Regions from separate parts of the Homo sapiens genome. Here region 1 is linked to region 2. A link means that fine-mapping ties the variant in region 2 to the expression of a gene that starts in the linked region. Tissue or cell type: whole blood. Region 2 holds a variant in brackets; the other region holds the start of a gene. All regions are shown on one strand. Distances are from middle to middle.

Region 1 (8,106 bases), 70 kb before region 2:
GCGCACCAGGCTGCAGAGATCAGCCCTGGCGGTTACATTTTTCAATTAATTCTCTTATTTTTATTATATAAAACATTATTTTGGCCAGGCGCGGTGGCTCACGCCTGTAATCCCAGCACTTTGGGAGGCCGAGGTGGGTGGATCACGAGGTCAGGAGATCGAGACCATCCTGGCTAACACGGTGAAACCCGGTTTCTACTAAAAATATGAAAAATTAGCCAGGTGTGGTGGCGGGCACCTGTAGTCCCAGCTACTCGGGAGGCTGAGGCAGGAGAATGGCATGAACCCGGGAGGCGGAGCTTGCAGTGAGCCGAGATCGTGCCACTGCACTCCAGCCTGGGCGACAGAGCGAGACTCCCTCTCAGAAAAATAAATAAATAAATAAATAAAATAAAAACATTATTTTACTTTATTTTTATTTTATTTTTATTGTTTTTTTTAGAGACAGGGTCTAGCTCTTGTCACTCAGGCTGAAGTGCTTGGCAAGATCATGGCCCACTGCAGCCTCAAACTCCTGGACTCAAGTGATTCTCTCACCTCACCCTCCAAGTAGCTAGGACTACAAGCACATGCCACTGTGCATGGCTATTTTTATTTTTCAGAGACATGGGCTCACTATGTTGCCTAGGCTAGTTTCAAGTTCCTGGCCTCAATAAAACATTATTTTAAAAAATCAGAGATGGCAAAGATTATGTTCCTTGTAATCTCAATAGTGGGGTAGAGAGACACTGGACACTAACAGATGCTAGGTGACTGCTTTTGGCCTTCTGTGCATTTGCACTTCACCTTTTGCATTTTTCTACTTAGCTGTTCTGGGAACATTATACATTTCCAAAGAGCTTCTTGTAACAAAAGTTACAAGAAATAAGAAACATGTATGACTTTTTTTTTTTTTTTTTTTGAGACAGAGTCTTGCTCTGTCACCCAGGCTGGAGTGCAGTGGTGCCATGTCGGCTCACTGCAGACTCTGCCTCTCGGGTTCCAGCGATTCTCCTGCCTCAGCCTCCCAGGTAGCTGGGATTACAGGCACGTGATACTATGCCTGGCTAATTTTTGTATTCTTAGTAGAGATGAGGTTCCACCATGTTGGCCAGGCTGCTCTCAAACTTCTGACCTCAGATAATCCACCTGCCTTGGCCTTCCAAAGTGCTAGGATGATAGGCATGAGCCACTGCACCCGGCCAAAACAGGTATGACTTTTAAAGAAAGCAAGGAATCATATCCTATTGTGTCTTTTCTGTCTTCGGGTGGTGATTTTAAGTACTTTGCATCATTGAAGAACTATTTAGAGAAAAATAAAGTGTGGCAATTAAAATATCAAACCCTCTCTTCTGATACCCTGATACATATGAAAAGTCAGTTTTTACTGGCCTTTTTTTCTGTTGACCATGGGAGGCAAGCACAGTGTAAATCATACCTTTGCAGTTTAGCTCATGCTCTCCTCCATTTGCACAAAGCCTGGCCATGTTCATTGCTCAGTCCACTCTCAACGCTTCTGCAAGGCTCAGCTGCAACCCTTTCCCAATTGCATTCTGTTCCTTTAATGTCTGTCCTACACAGTTCAGTAAGAAATCATGTGGCCATTTGTATTATTTTCTTATAAGTACCTTGAAGTCTGAACCTAAGTTTACCTCCAGGTGTAGACGCACCCTTTCTCTACCCCATCCTCCCCCTTTACTCTGCCCCACTAAGCAACCAATGGAGTAGAAGTAGTAAGTGCTCAATAAATATGTGAATGAAAAACCTTAAGTTCAAGGCATTTTGTATAGAATGTTTTAATTTTTATGGGTATATTTGGAGTCCTTTATTTAAGACCACAGTGCTGATGTCCACAATCTGTCACTACATAGTGCCTGGTGTGGTGGCTCATGTCTGTAATCCCAGCACTTTGGGAGGCTGTGGCGGGCAGATCGCTTGAGTCCAGGAGTTCAAGACCAGCATAGCCAACATGGTGAAACCCCTACAAAAATAAAAAATTAGCCGGGCTTGGTGGCACAAACCTGTAGTCTCAGCTACTGGAAAGGCTGAGGTGGGAGGTCAAGGATTCAGCGAGCTGTGATCGTGCCACTGCATTGCAGCCTGGGCGACAGAGTGAGGCCCTGTCTCAAAAAATGAAATAAAGTAAAAAATAAAAATAACTACATAGCGAAAATAATCAGAAGAATGTTTAAGGTCTCCAGTGAAAGGACAACAGGCTTGTTGTGCTGTTCGCAAGCACGTGTTAGATGCGATTCACTCATGTTGTTGGTGTGTCACTGGGGGTTGTGACTGCAAGTTGTCCAGGTTCTTGGCATTGTGAACAAAGAATTGGACAAAACGCCCAGCAAAGCAAAGAAAGAACAAGGCAACGAAAGAACGAAAGCAGGGATTTACCGAAAACGAAAGTGCACTCCACAATGTGGGAGCGGACCGAGCAGAGCTCAAGGGCCCGGATATAGAATCTTCTTGGGTCCAAATACCCACTAGAAGTTTCCTATTGGCCATTTTATGCTCACCTCAAACCCGATTGGTTGCAAGAAGCAAGCAGTCAGAGGCTAGGGTGAAATTACAAAGTTATACTTCTATGCAAACGAAGACTGGACCCCCAATCAGTCTGATTGGTTGTGGACAGCAACCATTCAGAGGCTGGAGTTAAGGTTCAAACTTGGCAAAGCAAGCCTCCACCAGCAGTAAGTCTGATTTGTCGGGGACAGCCAATTTCCTATCTGCCCTGCGGAAAAGGTGGGGGGGTTTGCAAAGGGAGTAGCCTTTGGTCCTTTTGTTACTTAGGCATGGAAAGTTAGGGTTTTCCTTTCAGTTTAGCTCTAGGAAGTCAGCGTGAGACAGCCTTAGGTTCCCTGCTTCCAGACTTATTCTCCTGCCTTAGGTACAGTCACTATCGTGATATTATCTATCGCTGTGTCAACACAACACCAATCCAAGCCCAACCGCAGCTCTCTCACTGCCGCACCGCTTCGTGAGGGTCGATCCGCCGGGGAGACCTGCTCTCCTGCGCTCGGGACTAGACGCGACCTCGCGGGGCTGAGGCTCTGTCCCTTATTGGCTGGGTCAGGGGGCGTGGCGCGGCTTGACCAATCGCGGGCGGCGCGCTTAGGCACGTGTGTGGACAGGCCTGAGAATCAGAGAAACCTTCTCTGGGGCTGCAAGGACCTGAGCTCAGCTTCCGCCCCAGCCAGGGAAGCGGCAGGGGAAAGCACCGGCTCCAGGCCAGCGTGGGCCGCTCTCTCGCTCGGTGCCCGCCGCCATGTGGGCCGTCCTGAGGTTAGCCCTGCGGCCGTGTGCCCGCGCCTCTCCCGCCGGGCCGCGCGCCTATCACGGGGACTCGGTGGCCTCGCTGGGCACCCAGCCGGACTTGGGCTCTGCCCTCTACCAGGTAGGCTGAGCGCCCCGGTGGCCTGGCCGCCGGTGCCAGGCTAGGAAGCAAGTGGAGGAGGGGCACGCTTCAACAACTGCTGCTCTCTTGTCCGGAGCCCCAGTTGATTCTGTGACGCACGTGAAGTTTGAAGAAGAAAAGCCTAACAGATACAAGAAAGTTTAGTTCACTTTTAGAGCTGGCACTGTACTTTGTGTCTTTGAAATCAGTGGTTCTTAAAGCCTGGTTTAGAATTGCCACCTGGGGAGCTAGCTGAATAGCTGCCTGAGCCCTACTCTGGACCTTGTGGGTCTCAGGTGGAGTCGCTGTGTTTATATTGTTAGTGAACTCATTAGGGGACTTTTGGCAGCCAGCTTTGGGAACCACTGGCCTAGAGCAGCCCAACGAGGGGCGCTGTGCTTAGGAAATTTGAGTTTAAAAGTTGATTATGATGGCCGAGCCCAGTGGCTCACGCCTGTAATCCCAGCGCTTTGGGAGGCCCTGGCGGGTGGATTACCTGAGATCAGGAGTTCGAGAACAGCCTGGCCAACGTGGTGAAACCCCATCTCTACTAAGAATACAAAAATTAGCCGGGCATGGTGGCGCGCGCCTGTAATCCCAGCTACCTGGGAGGCTGAGGCAGGGGAATCGCTTGAACTTGGGAGGCGGAGGTTGCAGTGAGCTGAGATCGTGCCATTGCACTCCAGCCTTGGCAACAAGAGCGAACTCTGTCTCAAAAAAAAAAAAAAAAAAAAGTTGGTTATGTTAATAGAAAATATCCCACAGTATCTTTGAGTGGCTTTTCTTGGAATTAGGAGGCATCATAAGGCCAAAAAACTCAAAACTTGCGAAATATCAGAGCTGGAAAATTTCACTGTGTTCCCACGATTTCTAAGCCTATACAGATAACATCTAAATAGTGCAAACAACACACAATTGTTTGTCAGTCCAGAATGTTTAATTCAGAATTATTAAGTGGTTATTGTGGTCTAGGCACTATTTTAGATATTTGGCATGGATGCGTAGGAATGGAACTAATAATTTTGTAGGGAAGATGGACAAGAAAGCAGGTAACTGTGGTACAGTGTAAGAAGGGTTGTCTAAAGCTTGAGAAGGTGGTTACAGAAAGCTACCGATAGGAAGTAATGGGTGAGATGAATCTTGGGTAAGAGCTGGCCAAGTTCAGGGTGCAGGATGGAAGGTAAGACTGTATAAACCAAGAGAGTTACAAGAACATAGGTACTGAGTTATGAAAGTGTATATCTGGTGTGAGGACTTGAATTCCATGTCTAGGACATGGAATTCATTGAATAGTGTCTGGTGATGGGATTGATTGATTATGGGGCCAGATAGAGGAGGATCTTCCATGCAAAAGCCACATTTAGATTCCATTTGGCAGGTTGTCCATTAAAATATTTAAGTAGATAAGTGGCATGATCCTATGGATATGGTAGAATCATCAGTGTGGTGGCAATGTGGAGGATGGATTGATATAGGGAAAAGACTAGACCTAGGTGACAGTGGAGAGTTGAGTCTTGAGATGAAGGAGTCAAAGTTAGAGTTGTATGTAGGAGGGGGGCATAAATACCTGAGGAGCAAAGATTATAGAGTTAATAACTGAGTGGAAGGGGAAAATGGATGACTTTGGAGTTTCCAACTGGGCAGAATATTTAGTTAGGTGGAACTGCCATTAATACAAAGAAGGCTTTGGTGATGGGTTTTGTATGAATCACCTTTTGCTAGGTTGCGCTTTGTGTAACAAATAATCAAAAAATCTCAGTAACTCACAACAGTAAATATTAGTCTCTCACTTGATTTTGTTTTGTTTCTTAATCTCTCACTCGTGTTGGTGGCCTTTGGTTAGCTGCTGCTGTGACTGTTCCACTGCAGGGTAGGTTCAGGTCTGCTCCATGTGTCTTCCCATTCCTGGACTGAGGCTGAAGAGCAGCCCTGAATTAAACATGCCCTTCTCATGGCCGAAGGCACAGGAGCAAGAGGCTGAACACAAATTGGATTTAAAATCCTTGCTGGCATGTGATGAAATTAATGTGTGCTCACATTAGACAAAGCAAGTCCATGAGGGTGGGGGAGAATGGGATGAATGATCCAGTTTAGCTGTGTTTCCTGATTACAAATAAAAGCAACTATAATAAGTAATAATAATGGCAGGAATTTTATAGTGTACCCACCATTTTTCTAAAGGCTTTATGTGGTTTTACTCATGTATTTATCATAATGATCCTGTGCAGTAGGTACAATTGTTATTTCTGTTTTATAGATGGGAAAACTGTGGTATATAGGGTCCAAGAAATTTGTCTGAGATAACACAGAGCCTGAATTTGAAGCCAGGTGGTCTGGCTCATAACTCTTGAGTCCAGGGTCTTAACTGTTGCTCTATAATGCTTCTCACTCACCCAGCTCTACCTAGGTGGGTTCTATGGTTGAAAAGATGGGGTGGGAAACTTGTCAGTGGCTCAGCTCCAATTCATTATGACTGTCAGGCACTAACCTCTGTGGTTGCTCAGCTTCACAAGAAAATTACTAGGTTGTAGAATGTTGTTTCGCAGGTGATTAAAACACACACACACACACACACAAACACAAACACCTGGCGTCCTGAGAGATCAAGATTTGCCAAATGCAGTATCAGTAAGTAGGGAAACTGAAAGTTGAACTTGGTTTTGCCACTAAACTACACTGCCTCTTGGTTAGTGAGTCTCATCCTAAGGAGGCTAGGTTGGTTGATAAAGGATTGCCTGGGAGGTGAACTGTAGCCAGTACTGGCTCTTCTGTGATTTAAGTCTGATGGGCTGAGCTTGGCACAGATGTTGCCCAGTCTGTAGAGGCAAATGTCAGCTTCAGTGGGTCAGTGCTTTTCTTCTTTGACCCACTGGTTGCTTAAAAGTACGTTGTTTAATTTCCATATATTTGTGAATTTTCCAGTCATCCTTCTGCCATTGATTTCTAGTTTCATTCCATTGTGATTGAAAGGATACTTTTGGGCCAGGCATGGTGGCTCAGGCCTGTAATCCTAGCGCTTTGGGAGGCCGAGGCTGGTGGATCACCTGAGGTCAGGAGTTCTAGACCAGCCTGGCCAACATGGTGAAACCCTGTCTCCACTAAAAATAAAAAAATTACCTGGGCATGGTGGCGCACGCCTGTAATCCCAGCTACTTGGGAGTGTGAGGCAGGAGAGTCGCTTGAACCCGGGAGGCGGAGGTTGCAGTGAGCTGAGACTGTGCTACTGCACTCCAGCCTGGGCGACACGGCCAGACTCCGTCTCAAAAAAAAAAAAAAGGATACTTTGTATGATTTCAGTCTTTTAAAATTTATTAAGATTTGTTTTGTGGCCTGACATGTAGTCTATCTTGGAGAATGTTGCCTGTGCACTTGAGAAAAGTTACATACTTTTTTCTGCTGTTGTAGGGTGACAAGTTCTGTATATTGTGTTAGCTCCAACTGGTTCTTTCCCTAATACCATGCTGCTTCCTTGTTTTTTATTTTCTGGATTTTGCAGAGCAAGAGAATGTAGCAGAAATCATGACCCTCAGAGCTCTTGGAGCTGTAGAAAATAGGAAATAATGGAGATATACTGTAGACTGAATATTCATCTAAGTTTGAACAGTTAGGAAGTTGCTTAGTGTTCTGTCAAACAGAAGGAACTAAATAACTAGAGATGCTAATCACATGGGGAGCAAAATGTATTAGTGGGCCAAGTCTGAATTTCAAAGATAATTAGCTAGTTAAGTATTGTTCTAAAGTAATATGCTGACCAAACAAAATTTAAAAATACAGAAGGGTGAAAAGTTAGTCCCTCTACCTCTTTTCTACTTCTCACTGTCAATATTTCCTTGTGTATTACTTAATTTGTGTATATATGCCAGCATAGAGTTTTGTTCTGTTTTTTTTTTTTTTTTTTTGAGATGGAGTTTTGCTCTTGTTGCCCAGGCTGGAGTGCAATGATGCAATCTTGGCTCACTGCAACCTCCGCCTCCCGGGTTCGAGGGATTCTCCTGCCTCAGCCTCCCGAGTAGCTGGGATTACAGGCAAGCACCACCTTGCCTGGCTAATTTTGTATTTTTTAGTAGAGACGAGTTTTCTCCATGTTGGTCAGGCTGGTCTCGAACTCCCGACCGTAGGTGATCTGCCCGCCTCGGCCTCCCAAAGTGCTGAGATTACAGGCGTGAGCCACCACGGCTGGCCGAGTTTTGTTCTTTTTACTAATTTATTTATTTATTTGAAACAGTCTTGCTCTGTCACCCAGGCTGGAGTACAATGGCACGATCCTAGTTCACTGCAGCTTCAAACTCCTGGGCTCAAGAGATCCTTCCACCTTAGTTGGTCAAGTCGCTGGGACACACCACCATGCCCAGATAATTTTTAAATTTTTATTCTTTTTATTTTTATTCTTTTTGTAAAGATGGAAGTCTCCCTATGTTACTCAGGCTGGTCTCAAACTCCTGGGCTTAAGCGATGCTCCTGCCTCCGCCTTCCAAAGCTCTGGGATAACAGACATAAGCCACCACACTCAGCCTGTTCTTTTTAAAACATAAAATAGGATCCTTGGCCAGGTGCGGTGGCTCATGCCTGTAATCCCAGCACTTTGGGAGGCCGAGATGGGCAAATCACTTGAGGTAAGGAGTTTGAGATCAGCCTGGCCAACATGGCGAAACCCGGTCTCTATTAAAAATACAATAATTAGCTGGGCATGGTGGCACACACCTGTAGTCCCAGCTACTTAGGAGGCTGAGGCA
Region 2 (8,106 bases):
TCATTTAATTAAGAACAAAATATTTTATAGTCTTTGAGAGCTAAACATGTTCCTGATTTTATCATCGTGTAAACAGACATATAGTAGCCAGTAAATGGAAAGAAGCAATAGAAAGCCGTATAAGAGGTTTGAGATGAAATATAAAATATATATTGTTAAGCTTTTCTATAGTTTTTTTTTTCCACATAAGATTTTGACTGAAATACACAGGGACAGCTGAAATATTAAAGTTTGAAAAATTGTGTATTTTGTGTGAGCTGTTAGCTTGTTTTTCAGCCCTGGCTAAGATAAATCATCTCTTGAGAAAGATTGCATCTTTTATTATTTTCATACTAACATTATTATTATTTTTTAATGGATTACATTCAAGGCAGAAGAGTAAATGGCCCAGAGAGACTTATCTTTGGAAATAAATGTTAACAGACAGTAAAGTTTTCTGTGGATCTGTAGATTTTTTTTTTTTTTTTTTGAGACAGAGTTTCTTGTTGCCCAGGCTGGAGTGCAATGGCATGATCTCGGCTCACTGCAACTTCCGCCTCCTGGGTTCAAGGGATTCTCCTGCCTCAGCCTCCCGAGTAGCTGGGATTACAGGCGTGTGCCACCACGCCTGGCTAATTTTGTATTTTTAATAGAGATGGGGTTTCTCCATGTTGGTCAGGCTTGTCTCGAACTCCCAACCTCAGGTGATCCACCCGCCTCGGCTTCCCAAAGTACTGGGATTACAGGCATGAGCCACTGCACCTGGCCAGATCTGTAGATGTTTAACCCTTCTGTTGAAACAGCTGGTGGCATGGAGACAGCAGCTTTCTTTCAAAGCTGAAAGGATTTCCAAGCCAGTTTATGGTACCTTCCTTGGGTTTAGTAAATCTCAGCTTCACAGTAAAATTCCCTGGCCTGCTTAGGTTTGAACATGGCTAGATCTGTCTTTTCAGAGACAGAGCTTGTTATTATCAGTTACTGAAACCTACAATGTTTTCCTTAATCCTAATAGGTTACATATGTAGCGTGCCAATTTGCTTCTGCTCAGTTGTTTTTATAATCAAACTTTTATCCGGCATTTCATTAGTGCCTCTTACCTGGGGCAGTCTTTTTAATGAACATTATTAAGCAGCCCCTTCATCACCATGCTTGCTGTGCTGCAGGCTTCAGAGGGAGTGTAATCAATTCACCTGGTTGCAGATGACAAGAGTGGCTTTCTTTTTATTGGGTGTTGATACTTTAGGGTCCCTATTATGAATGTTTTATGAGCAAAGGTTTGATTCATGTCTGTCAATGTAAGAATGGTTTAATAGTTGATGCCAGGTTCAGATACCGAAGGGAGTTTATATAAAAAAAGCAAACTGCCACCTACTAATAACCTTTAAAAAGTAATATTTCTCAGTCATTTTTCGTTATACATTTGAGGTTGTCAATGAGAAGGAAACTAAAATTTCTACTTAAAAGTTTCTTCTGCAAGCAGTTTAAAGTTATTGTTTTTCCTATTGTAGCAAAAAATAAAGACCTACATTTGAAGGTATCTATTTTATTAATAAAATGTACTGAAGCTGGCCGGGTGTGGTGGCTCACGCCTGTAATCGCAGCACTTTGGGAGGCTGAGGTGGGCGGATCACCTGAGGTCAGGAGTTCAAAACTGGCCTGGCCAACATGGCGAAACCCCGTCTCTTCTACAAATACAAAAATTAGCCAAGTGTGGTAGCGCACTCCTGTAATACCAGCTGCTAGGGAGGCTGAGGCAGGAGAATTGCTTGAACCCAGAGGGCGGAGATTGCAGTGAACTGAGATCGTGCCACTGCACTGCACTCCAGCCTGGGTGACAGAGCGAGACTCCATCTCAAAAATAATAATAATAATAAATAAGATAAAATGTACTGAAGCCTATTCAATAATTTTCATAGTTTCTTAAGAGTTTGGATGGGGGTTGGGGAATATACATTTTCCAGTAAAGTTTGAGGTTATTACCTGGGTATATGTGGTTCTGCATATTAATGACAGAATACACCAACTTGGCTTATATATTTGTGTGGGAAGAAAAGGAATAGGAAAATTTTTCCTGAAATAAGTAAACGTATTGTCAAATTAGGGGTTACTTTGAGATCTCTTATAAAAGTAGTTCCTTAAGCCTTAAGCCTGACATGACATTCTGTGGTGGCCTGGGATGAAGGTCATATCATTTTTTTCCACGTTTTCCCCCTCTGTCTTGAACGTAGTTTCTGTTGTGAGATTATGGTACATGGATGCTAATCAGTAGATCCATATATTACCTGAAGGAAAACTTCCTTGGCATTTCTGCACATGGAGAGTGTATAAATGGTAGTTTGGTGGTAAATTCATAACTCTTTTTTTGTTCTTTTGTCAGGGTATGGGATGATGGGATCATTGATCCAGCAGACACCAGACTGGTCTTGGGTCTCAGTTTTAGTGCAGCCCTCAACGCACCAATAGAGAAGACTGACTTCGGTATCTTCAGGATGTAACTGGAATAAAGGATGTTTTCTGTTGGACATGTACTGAAAATTAACACATGTAGTAGCCTTAAAATTTTAGACTTCTCGAACATGAGGCTGTTACAGTAATTTTTTTAACACTGTGCATTGTACTTTTCTACCTTAAAAAAATCAGTGAGGATATTTATTTAATGAACATCAATTCCTTTTAAATTTTCTTAGAGAAATTTCTCTGTGGCTCAGTTTTACCACCCATAAAGCGGAGACAGTAATTTACGGTTATCCTTTCTGACCCACAAAGTATGAAAAGTTCTGTAATCTGTAAACTCAGTTCTGTAATCTGTATTATTGAGATGATTAATATAAAGTTGTATTTTCACTGAAATGATTGTTTTGCTGGTTATGCTTGGTGATATTTTAGCGGGCTTATTTTTGAAAGGCATCTGTTACTTCAGTGGCATAAAGTGCCCTCACACTGCTGTGCAGCCATCACCACCATTCATCTCCAGAATTTGTTCTCAGTCCCAAACTGAAACTATACCATTCAAACAACAGCGCTCCCCATTTCCCCCTCCCCCGAGCCCATGACATCTCCTTATTATTATTTTTTTTTTGAGACAGGGTGTTTCTCTGTTGCCCAGGCTGGAGTGCGGTGGTGTGATCTCGGCTCACTGCAGCTTCCACCTCCCGGGTTCAAGCGATTCTTGTGCCTCAGCCTCCCAAGCAGCTGGGACTATAGGCACGCACCACCACACCCAGCTAAGTTCTGTATTTTTAGCAGAGACGGGATTTCACTAGGTTGCCCAGGCTGGTCTCAAACTACTGACCTCAAGTGATCCACCCGCCTCGGCCTCCCAAAGTGCTGGGATTACAGGTGTGAGCCACCGCGCCTGACCACATCTCCTTATTCTTAAATGTATGTGTTTCTCATGGTTTGATTTATTCTTGCTGGGCCATTTCAGCCCCTGTCATGGCTTCACTCGCCATCTAAATGCAGATGATTACTGCCTTGACGGTTCTTAACCCAGCTCTCCCCTGAGCTGCAGGCCTGCATATCCAGTAGGTCTACTGGACATCTGTACTGGTTGTTGTGGAGGAACCTCTGGCTTGCTCATTAAGTCCTACTGATTTTCACTATCCCCTGAATTTCCCCACTTATTTTTGTCTTTCACTATCGCAGGCCTTAGAAGAGGTCTACCTGCCTCCAGTCTTACCTAGTCCAGTCTACCCCCTGGAGTTAGAATGGCCATCCTGAAGTGAAAAGTAATGTCAGATTACTCCCTTCAGTGATTTCTTGTAGAAGTGCCAATCCCTGAATGCCACCAAGATCTTAATCTTCACATCTTTAATCTTATCTCTTTGACTCCTCTTTACACCGGAGAACGGCTCCAGCTGTTCTAGCTCTCTTTCAGTTCTTTGAACCTTCCCACCTTAGGGTCTATAAGGTTCCCTCTGCCCAAATTGTTCTACTCTCCCTTCTTCTTCAACACATCCTTCAGTTTAAGCACTTGCTTCTCTCAGTTTAAACTCCACTTCCTTAGGGATGTCTCTGTGACCTCCCTGTGCTGGATTAGCTTCCCTACTCTATGCTCTTGTAAAACA[C/G]TATCTACTTCCTTTGTCATAAACTCATCATTTTCCTATAAACATTAATATTGTCCTCCTGCTAGAATGTAAGCTCCGTGAGAGCAAGGATCCTCCTGTTTACCCTGTACCTCCAATGTCTGGCACTTGTAGGTGCTCAAATATTCGTTGAATGAATGAAAAATCCATATTGTAATTGATGTCCTCTGGCCACATAGTTTTAAAATTAGGTGATTGATTATATGACCGAATAGAACTATCAAATGTTTTCCTAATAAAGTCAATATTTCAAACATTTGTGTGTGATATTTAGTATTTTAAACATTTGTGTGTGATGTTCAATGTGTACCAGGAAGTCAATTTAGTTTTTGTGGGGAGAATATAGATAGATGATCAAATTCAGTGGTAGGTTACATTTTCAGAAGCAATACATTAAGTATATTAAAATAGTAATATTAAAATTTTAATGAAAATGCACATCTATGTCAAAATGATTTTCTATATAAAGACTAGGTAATATTCCTTTGGTAGGAACCATTAACAAGTCAAGGATTCATGGATATTTTAGGACTGCTTTTGCTTTTCTGGGAAGAAACTGTCCATCAATAAAACCACATTTAAGTGAATTGGATTTTTTAAAACTTATTTTTCTAGAGGCAGGGTCTTGCTATGTTGCCCAGGCTGGACTCGAACTCCTAGGCTCAAGCAATCCTCCTGCTTCAGCCTCCCAAGTAGCTGGGACTACAAGCTTGCACCACTACGCCTTGCTCTATTTTGTATATTTTACCCAACAATAAACATTTATAATTGTCTTACCAAAATAGGTAATACTTTTTAAACATTTTGACTATCATAAATATGAATTCCAGCAAGGATAATATGAGCTACTTGGAATTTGAAGAAATATACAAGTTAGTCTCTAAATTTGCCCCTGTTGGTACTTAAAGAATGAAAAAGACAAGATTACTTCTATTTTTCAGTTTATAAGAAAAGTATTTTCAAATCGAATTTGTTAAAAAAAAAAAAACACTTCTGCACCAGCAGAAGGCACTATTGAGTGTTTGAGTGACACCATCATTTGCCAACATGCTTATGTGTATGTCTCTCCAGAGAGAGGCCATATGTTTCCTTCACAGGGATAAATCAAAGCAGGTTTTGGAATGATACATTAATAAGATTATTTTTGAGAGGCCACATTAGTTCTAAAATGCATTGAGTTTGGTTTTATGGAAGATTAAATCTCCACTAAGAGTCTTGGCGATTTTTTTTTTCTTAGTGATCTTCTAATGATTGGTTCTGAAGTTTCATATATGGAAAAATGGCAAGAAGATGAACTAGGTTATCATAGCCTAGTGTCATTCATAACATTTCCCTTAAAATGTTACAATTAAGTACAATTAATATTTAATGATGACATAGATTTTAATCATTTTCGACAAAACGTTTTGTGCCTTTCCACTAAACGCTTAAAAATAGTTTGTTTCAGCGGGGCACCCTGGCTTAACACCTGTAATCCCAGCACTTTAGGAGGGTGAGGCAGGAGGATTGCTTGAGCCCAGTGGTTGGAGAACAGCCTGGGCAACATAGCAAGACCCTGTCTCTACTTAATAAATAAATAAATAGGTAAATAAATAAATAGTGCTTTTATTTTATGTGCTTCAAATTCTCTTGTATCTGGAATCAGGATCCTGAGGACTAAGTTTTTCTTAGGGATGAATGAAATTTCTATGCCCCTTTTACCTTTCTAGGCAAATGTACATTCCATCAAGTTGACTGTGTAACTTACCATCCACATTGGGGCTTTTGAGAGTGAGAAAAAGGGGGTCTTAATAATAACTACACTGGGAAACAGGTCTGAACTGGGACCGACTCATCCCAGTTTGAACTGGGATGTGTGCTCGCTGCCTGTAACATCATCATGACTGAATACTTTGTTTGCATATCAGCTTTTGAAAATTCTTAGAAGCCTTCGCTCAAGATACCTGCTTCATGACTTTCAATATAGATTTCAGTATGATACCAGTCACATAATATGTGTGCATTAGCATTCTAGGGAGTCATTTAATTGACCCTAGAGGAGAGTTTACCATAGGGCAGGGATGATTTTGTTTCCCAGCTGTTAGTTTTCTGAGATCAGTGGTTCAATATGTCTGGCAGCTTTGTCTTTCACAAACCAAGTCACATGTTTGTGCTACTTTTTAGGGTAAGCAAGAGAAGTATTTTTCAGGGAGAATAAGGTCTTAGAAGGTGATGATTTCACAGAGAAGTTATCGCAAGGAAAATATACCCAGAACCAGATGTTAGAAGTAAGCTGGAGTAGAAAAAAAAATTTTTTTTTTTTGAGTCAGGGTCTCGCTCCAGTGCCCAGGCTGGAGTGCAGTGGCGTGATCTTGGCTCACTACAGCCTCTACCCCTTGGGCTCAAGTGATCCTCTCACCTCAGCCTCCTGAGTAGCTGGGACTCGGGCACATGCCATCACGTCCGGCTAATTTTTGTATTTTGTAATTTTTGTGTTAGCAGAGATGTGTTTTCGCCGTGTTGCCCAGGCTGGCTTCAAACTCCTGGACTCAAGTGACCCGTCTGCCTTGGCCTCCAAAAGTGCTGGAATTATAGGCATGAACCATTGTGCTCAACCAAGAAAAACAATTTTTTTAAGTGTAATTCAGTAAGTGTTGATTGTAAGAAGTGAACTCAGAAGAAAAACAGGTAGAATTTTAGAATACTCAGACTAATTTTAAACGTTCCTGTAGAAAATGTATTCAACATTTTTCAGCCACAGCACTGTTAATGACATTCCTTTATCTACCGGATAATTAGAAATAATTTTTGTCTTAAAGTTATTTGTAATCTAAAAATCTAACAATGTTACTTGCGGAAAATTTAGGAAGACAAAGTGAAGAAAATAAAGTGAAAAAAAAGCTTCATAATCTCACTACCTAGAGATAACTGCTATTAATATTTTTCGTGTACTAGTCTTTTTCTATCTTTACGAATTTTTTTTTTTTTGCAAAAATGCTGTGTGCTACATGTTATTCTGTAATCTGCATTTCACTTAATGTATTGTAAATATAATGACCTGTTTACATGAAATTTAATATTCTGCAAATTTTTTTCTTTTTTGAGATGGAATCTCACTCTGTTACCCAGGCTGGAGTGCAGTGGCATGATCTCGGCTCACTGCAACCTCCGCCTCCGGGGTTCAAGTGATTCTCCTGCCTCAGCTTCCTGAGTAGCTAGGACTACAGGCGCGCGTCACGACACCCAGCTAATTTTTGTATTTTTAGTAGAGACGGGGTTTCACCATGTTGGCCAGGCTGGTCTCGAACTCCTGACCTCAGGTGATCCACCCACTTTGGCCTCCCAAAGTGCTGGAATTACAGGTGTGAGTCACCGCACCCAGCCTAATATTCTGCAATAACTCTGATGTTGCACGATAATGCAGTGCATGAATCCTCCCTTTGATTTAACTACTCCCCTATTGTTGTACCTGTAGGTTTTTTCTGGTTTCCCACATTACAGATAATGCTGCAGTGAACATCTGTTTAGTTTCTTTACATATCTGTGATTATTAGGATACATTTTTAGCAATAGTGTTGTTGGATAAAAGTGTACAGGTTAAAGTATACACAGACCTTTAAGACTTGTTGGTAAGTTTTGCTCTATAAGTGTATATTATGGTATTTATTGCTGGATGTAATGGTTACCGTGGTGTTTTTAGATACAGAAATAGCTTCCCATAGAATTAAATTGTTTAGCAGAAACCAATGTTTTCTTTCATTGTTAAAAGTTGTGTCTAGGCTGGGGCATGGTGGTTCATGCCTGTAATCCCAGCACATTGGGAGGCCAAGGCAGGCAGATCGCGCGAGCCCAGGAGTTTGAGACCAACCTGGGCAACATGGTGAAACCCTGTCTCTACAAAAAAATAAAAATAAAAAATTAGCTAGGCATGCTAGTGTGTGCCTGTAGTCCCAGCTACTCAGAAGGCTGAGGTGGGAGGATCACTTGAGCCCGGGAGGCCAAGGCTGCAGTGAACTGTGATCGTGCCACTGCACCCCAGCCTGGGCAACAGAGCGAGACCCTG

What was found. PIP is the estimated chance that this variant, and not a neighbour inherited with it, causes the effect.
Region 1: it holds the start of MCCC2, and the variant in region 2 is fine-mapped to the expression of MCCC2 in whole blood (TOPMed, PIP above 0.99).

Annotation. Positions count from the first base shown.
Region 1 is chr5:71,584,182-71,592,287 of GRCh38, forward strand. MCCC2 (methylcrotonyl-CoA carboxylase subunit 2) reads left to right here and starts at 3,159. Exons shown (of 17, transcript NM_022132.5): 1 at 3,159-3,373. The coding sequence starts at 3,245. LOC124900999 (a long non-coding RNA gene) reads left to right here. Exons shown (of 4, transcript XR_007058810.1): 4 at 1-73. RefSeq lists an enhancer at 2,818-3,604.
Region 2 is chr5:71,654,387-71,662,492 of GRCh38, forward strand. MCCC2 (methylcrotonyl-CoA carboxylase subunit 2) reads left to right here. Exons shown (of 17, transcript NM_022132.5): 17 at 2,357-4,320. The coding sequence ends at 2,474. Among named protein-coding and RNA genes, the nearest start is that of CARTPT, 61 kb to the right of the region's middle. The variant C/G (reference allele first, on the strand shown) is at 4,047.